2 linked regions of the Homo sapiens genome follow. The protein of the gene in region 1 interacts with the protein of each later gene in a pairwise test. Each region holds a gene or a part of one and is shown on either strand. Other genes may lie near its edges. The genes, in order: SLC10A2 and TMEM222.

Region 1 (3,282 bases):
AGTTATATATTGAATAAGCCTATCTTAAATACATGCATTAAAAGCAGAGACATAATGCATATATATGTACTTATTATTATATCTGCTTTTCATGTTTCACAATAACAAAACTACTAAAACATGTGCTCTCTTAACATCTTCTTTAGGTGCCGAACGGTTGCTTTTGAAACGGGGATGCAGAACACGCAGCTATGTTCCACCATCGTTCAGCTCTCCTTCACTCCTGAGGAGCTCAATGTCGTATTCACCTTCCCGCTCATCTACAGCATTTTCCAGCTCGCCTTTGCCGCAATATTCTTAGGATGTAAGGAATCATGCCAATCCCATTTCATGATAATCTTTGAAAAATCCTGGAGTTGCTAAAACAACATTTTTTTAAAACTCCCCGTTCCTGGTGGTGAATTGTACAAATATATGAGAGGAAAAAGCCACCGTCATATTATCATGACTTTCCAATTGCTGATGAAAAGATGGTAGTTTTACCAAAAGATTCTAGCAAAGATTATTTTTGAGTGAAAAGTAATGGAGGCCGATTCTCTCCAATGACTTTCTTTTCCTCAGTAATAAGGAAGGCAGAGGAACCTGTTGGGACCATTTTATTGTGCGCCTTCTGGCATTCGCCCAGGAACTCAGGATTTGGTGATCTTTTTCAAAACATTGTCTTGATATGCTTTATAAATATAGGATATTTATCAGAAAACTGGTATACAAAGAAAATTTACCAGGCTAACTTACAAGGAAGATGTGTGTGTGCATATGTGTATATGCATGTATATATATATTTTAAATACCCATATAATTGAAGTGGTTGAAGCAAAAATGTTCCTTATGTAAAGTACTAGGTGTAGTTTAAGTAATTCTTACTTCTCCTGTCCTGTGGCATGAAGCTCCCAGCGTTTCCCATCAGGCCCCACCGCCCACTGGCCTTCACCTAGTTGAAAATTCTTTCTACATTTTCCTTTCCAAGGGCTGATAATATTTAACCTCTATTTTTACATTCTATTTTTTTTAATAAAAAAGCTAGTTTTTAAAGCCTCATGACATTGTAATGAGGAATATAAAGTGAAGGCACGCAACAAAACTAATGTAAATGTTAGGTCACAAAATGTCCAGAGATATAGTTTGGTTTTGTTTGGTTTTGCTTTTCTCTCTCTCTCTCTTTTCTTTTTTTCTTTTCTTTTCTTTTTTTTTCTTTTTTTTTTGAGACAGCCCCTCACTCTGTCGTCCAGGCAGGATTGCAGTGGTGTGATCTCTGCTCACTGCAAGCTCTGCCTCCTGGGTTCACGCCATTCTCCCACCTCAGCCTCCCAAGTAGCTGGGACTACAGGTGCCCGCCACCATGACAGGCTAATTTTGTTTTTGTATTTTTAGTAGAGACGGGGTTCCGAGGCGGGCAGATCATGAGGTCAGGAGATCGAGACCATCCTGGCTAACACGGTGAAACCCCATCTCTACTAAAAATATGGTTTTGCTTTACTTTTCTGCTTAGCTTCATCAGCTCTTCAACTTGCCCTGTGATGCTGATCTCCTCTGCACTACTGTCTTGAATGTCATTCTCAAAGCAGAGGCTTCCTTTCCAGAACAGAATACTCTGAATCCACTGAAAACATTCCATGGATTTATCACTGCTCCAGGAAGCAGGAGTCCAGGCCTAATTACCTTGTTTTCTGTATAATAACGTTGTTTGATCTGCCCAATTTGGCACACAGTGGGATTTTTCCAAATAATTACTTAATGATGTCTACTAGATAAGCCAGAGAAAGTGGACTGGTTGATAGAACAATTAAGTAATGCACTAGTTGAACACTAACCCCAAAGAGGTTGATTAATAAAAAATTAAGTTGAAGGAATGAGGAAAAGGGAGCACTCAACTCGGTCTTGAAATTTCCCAGTTACATCAGTATGTATAAAAATAAGGGAGGAATCTTTGTTAAGTGTATACAATACCTGGAAACATATTTTGGTGGTAAGGCTAGGATTCTAAATTTTTTTTTGGAAAAAGGAGAGGAGGGGAAGAAAGAAAAAGGGAAAAAAGGAAGGATGGGGGAGGGAGAGAGGGAGGGAGGGAGGGAGGAAGGCAGGGAGAGAAGGGAGGGAAAGAAAAAGGGATAAACAAGAGGTATAGTTTGGTTAAATGAAATCATTGGCATAAGTTTAAGCTGAGGGACTCTCAGCTCAAAACAGTTTATAATAAGTGGCGGATCTTCAAATTGACCACAAGCTCAATTAAATTCAATAGTGTGGTTCAGTGGCTTTGAAAATAATATATGACTAGAAGTTCAGGGACCAATCTAAAGGAAATATTGATCTTGAGTTAATAAGATCTTTGAAGCAAGTCATTATCTCTCTCAGCTGTGTATCATAATGAACGTTAACATTTATTGAGCATTTACTATTCTTCACAGACCATGTTAGGCATTTAATTTTATCTCATTTAATGTTCACAATTGCCCTATGAGGTAGCTAATATTATTATGGCCATTTTATATGTGAGGTATTAGAATTCGAGGGGTCCTATAAGGAGTATTTTCTGTCCTCCTCTTGCCTTTGTGACCAATTGAGAAGTAGAAGAAAAATCAGATATTCAGATAACAGAATAGCACTTTAACTATGGATAAAACTTAATTGGAAAACATGACTTGAATCTGCAACCAAATGGGCTTGTTGAAACCACCCTTTCCTCCACTGCCTCACACATGTGCAGACATGTACTCACACATGCATAGACACTGCAGGTCTTGCCTCGCAGGGCAGAGCCTACCCTGATGAGCTGACATTAAAAATAAGCTGAGAAATGCTTGCTATCAGAGACCAGCAGCTCCACAGAAAAGAGGAATGCTGATCACCCATCAGCCGAGTCTCTTCTCTCCGGGGGAAAGATTGAATGAAGGCAGGGAGGGAATGGGAACGTTGTTCTAGTTCAAGTCCTTCTACAGAGGACCATCAAACCCATGTCCTGGAGGTTGCACTGCACCATGTGTATATTTATTAAGAACTAGCACATTAACTGGGATATGGCGGTACAGAATAAATCCTCCCTATTGTTCTTATCATTGTTGAGTACCACGTGCAGGGCTGAATGCCTGAAGAAGCTTGTGGCTGCCCTGAGCAAATGTCTCCTAAAGATTTATGCTAGGTCTTCCTGAAGTGCAGTCATCCCTCTCGCCATGAGTAGCCATAGAACTAAGAATGGTGATTTCTTTCTCTAAGCAGCCTCCAGTCTACAGAAAATGTGATCTGCCATGTGAATCATAGGTTATAATCTCTATGCAAAGTAATTTT
Region 2 (3,822 bases), on another chromosome or scaffold:
AGGGCAGGAGAGTGAGTCTAGAGGGAGACAGATCTGGGTGTGGGTCCCAGCTCTGCCACTTCCTGTGTGACCTTGACCAAGTCCCTTCCCTTTCCTCACCCTTGCCATGGAGTTGAAAATACAAACCTGAAGAGCTGTGGCAAGGCCCAGATGGTCTACAGGTAAAGGCCCTAGCCAGGGGCTGGTGCGGTACACACTCTGTATGGGGTTGCCATGCTCTGGTGGACCCTGGCTGACCTCTCCCCCGACCCCAAATACTCTATTCTCAGGGTGCTGGCCCCTCCTGTGCCCCAGAAGGCCTGGCCCGCCCCGGCAGGAGCGACCTGCCTCTAGAGCCAGTCACATGGGTGTTCATCACTTACTTGGCAGGCTTTCCAAAGGCCATGTTGTCCTCCTGTTGAGGGACAAAAGCAGAGGTCAGTGAGGAACTTACATTTGGGCCAGATGACAAACCTGGGTAGGTGGCAGAAGTGCAGTGACTTAGAAGAGGGTATGTCAGGGGTGGGGGGGCCAGAAGTGGGGCCTGGGCCCTGCCCTGGGGCTGGCATGGCATCTAAAGAGCTAGCAGCTGTTCTGCAGGAAGAAGGCAGTGTGGCACAAGTGCACAGAGCACTGCATCAGAGACCAAAGATCTGGGGCTCCAGCTGCCACTGTCCCTTGGTGTGGCACCCAGGAATTCTCTTGCCCTCTCTGGGCCTCATTTTCTCCAAGTTCTCTGGTCAGTCTTCTCTGATCTCTGAGGACCAGCAGGAGGTTTCCATCATGGTCTGGCCTCCTGACTCAACAGTGGTGGCCCACATGGAGACCATCTCCTCGCCCAGCAGTCTGACTGCATTCATAGCAGGGCGGGGGCGCTGGGCCCAGAGGGACTTCCTGTGAGGGAGACACTGCAGTGAAGTCCTAGACTCATCACATTATTCCTGGGGTACAGGACTTACACAGAGACAGACTCTGGGTTCAGATCAGGGAGACCCTGCTGACAGACCTGGTCAATGATTAATCACCATAAAAATATATGATAAAGTAATGGATGTGAAAGTATTTTTAAGTACAAAGTGACAGACCTTTGTCGTGTTAAGATGATCATGACAACTATTAATATAAACAGGTTGGTGCCACCACACCCCTTCAGTCCAGCCTCTGACACCTGGAGACAGGATGATGCATGCTCCTCTGCTGCTAGCCCACTGGACCAGTCTTGGTCACAGCCCCAGGGAACAGACCTGAGAACACAGCTGCTTCATTCTAAAGCCCCACCCCCTCTTCTCCATGGCCACACCCAGGGAACCGAATCAGCCTCCCGTGTCCCCCCACCTTGACTCCCACCTTCTGAAGGTCCAGAGATGTGGTTCCTGGATGGTCTGACTCTCCACTCTTGCCTCTAATCCCTACCCATGTCTCGGTACCCCAGGGGTGGGGGCAAAGGGCTGGGTCAGTTACTTAAGAATCCTTCTGGCCACACTGCCCTCCCGGCCTGTCCTGGAGGCAAGAGAAGGGGGAAAGGGGTCAAACACTGGTGAGGGGCAGAGGGCCAGGGCCAGGACTGCGGGTTATCTACGTTCTCCTGGGTCTGGGGAGACGAAGCCTGCCTGCAGGCAAGACAGGACAGCCTTCCACTTAAACCTTGGAACCCCCCGGGTGGGCAGAATGGGGACTCACTGAGACAAAGTAGGGGCCCGCGAAGTCCCGAATGACTCCTGTGGATGTGCAGATGCCCATGTGGCCGATGATGGGGAAAAACCACCTGTGAGGAAAAGGACGGGGAAGGGACAGAGCTTAGGGGATCTTTCAGCCAGTTAGACGGACGCTGGGGACCCTTCATACAGTACAGAAGCATGTGAATATTACGTTTCATTGACAGGTGGCCATTAGGGTGGTCCAGAAGGCTGGGGAAGCACAGACAAGGGTAACTGCAAACCGACAGCACAATGGGATACCTCAGCATCCCGCCAGGATGGCTGTAACTCAAACGACAGCAACACCAATGCAGGTGAGGGCAAGGGACAACCAGAGCTCTCATTCACTGCTGGTGGGAGGGATAAACTGTTTCTACCTTTTTTTTTTTTTCAAATGGAGTCTCGCTCTGTCGCCCAGGCTGGAGTGCAGTGGCACAATATTGGCTCACTGCAACCTCCGCCTCCCGAGTTCAAGCAATTCTCCTGCCTCAGCCTCCTGAGTAGCTGGGACTACAGGTGTGCACCACCACGCCTGGGTAATTTTTGTATTTTTAGTAGAGATGGGGTTTCACCATGTTGGCCAGGATGGTCTCGATCTCTTGACCTCGTGATCCACGTGCCTTGGCCTCCCAAAGTGCTGGGATTACAGGCATAAGCCACTGCACCCGGCCTACCATTTTGTTTTTGAGATGGAGTCTCGCTCTCTTGCCCTGGCTGAAGTGCGGTGGCACAATCTCAGCTCACTGCAACCTCCGCCTCCTGGGTTTAAGCAATTCTCCTGCCTCAGCCTCCCGAGTAGCTGGGACTACAGGAGTGCACCACCATGCCTGGCTAATTTTTGTATTTTTAGTAGACATGAGGTTTCATCACGTTGGCCAGGCTGGTCTCGAACTCCTGACCTCAAGTCATCTGCCTGCCTCGGCCTCCCAAAGTGCTGGAATTACAGGCGTGAGCCACCGTACCCGGCCTGTTTCTACCATTCTGGAAAACAGTTTGGCACTATACTAAATGCCTCAGCAGTTTCACTTTTGGAACCTTCTTTGCCCTCACCCCTGGGAAATAACATTTGCCAAAACTCATTGAACTGTACTCTTAAAATGTGTACATTTTATTATATGTAAACTATAATTCAATAAAATTGATAAAAACAACTAGAAAGAATCCAAATGTTCAACAACAGTACGATGAATAAGTGTGGTATAGTTATACATTGAAATAGTCCATAACAATGAAAAACAGTGTCACTTCTGCTACACACAACACAGGCTTTCACAGACATAAGGGTGAATGAAGGAAATCTTACACAGAGTACGTAACATAGCACTCTGTTTACGTGAAGTCCAAGAAAAGGCAAGACTGATCTATGGCTAGAGGTCCACAGCGGGGTGGAATCTGTGGTAGAACTGACTGGGAGGGCACAAGGGGGTCCTCTGGGTCTTAGCATTGCTTTCTAGCCCCCGTCTGGGTGGCGGTTACATGAGTGTGTGATATGCAAAAATTCTTCCTGCTGTATACTTGAGATTCGCACACCGTTTGGTACATAAGTTATACCTCAATAAGAAAGTTAAAAAAAAAAAAAAAGGTGGGCGGTCATGACACCAGTATGGGTGGGGGAGTTCAGGAAAGGCTTCCCTGAGGAAATAACAAAGAAACAGAATGTGCAAGGGTAGAAATTGGAACAGAAGCATGGTGTATGCCAGGAAATAAAAGTTCCTTTTTTATAAACCATGGGCATTAAAAAACAACAATAAATCTCAGATGCACCCCAATATGTCACACATAGGAACCCCAGACCTGTCTGTGTTCTGAGAACCATGGCCCTACAGGACCTGGGTGCTGGAGAGACTGATCCAGTTTAAGGAGAACTCACAGGGCCAGTGGCCGAGTCCTGGCCTCAATGCTGCCTGGGCACGAGCATAAAGCACCTGGCTAGGGGTGCAGGCCAAGCCTCCAGAGACGCAGTTTAAAAAAGCAGTTACAGGGGGCTGGGGTGGAGCCAGTAAAGACTTCACAGAGGAGGTGACTTTTAACCTTGACCTGTGAAAGGACACAACATCAACAGGCAGAAAACAACACTGCAGAGCAAGAAAGTGGTACATGTGCCTGGAAGAACGAAAGGGGGAGAGGCCAGCTCAGGGGCTACTGC

The links.
Region 2: the proteins of SLC10A2 (region 1) and TMEM222 interact in binary tests that used the Homo sapiens proteins (3 or more experiments, as listed by UniProt).

What each region holds. Positions count from the first base shown.
Region 1 is NC_000013.11:103,046,311-103,049,592, reverse strand, and holds part of SLC10A2 (ileal sodium/bile acid cotransporter), read left to right. Parts: intron 1-146; coding exon 147-304; intron 305-3,282. UniProt on the Homo sapiens protein: Plays a critical role in the sodium-dependent reabsorption of bile acids from the lumen of the small intestine. Transports various bile acids, unconjugated or conjugated, such as cholate and taurocholate.
Region 2 is NC_000001.11:27,328,642-27,332,463, reverse strand, and holds part of TMEM222 (transmembrane protein 222), read right to left. Parts: intron 1,750-3,822; exon of another isoform or gene 1,745-1,749; coding exon 1,660-1,744; intron 1,480-1,659; exon of another isoform or gene 1,327-1,479; intron 1,224-1,326; exon of another isoform or gene 395-1,223; coding exon 363-394; intron 1-362.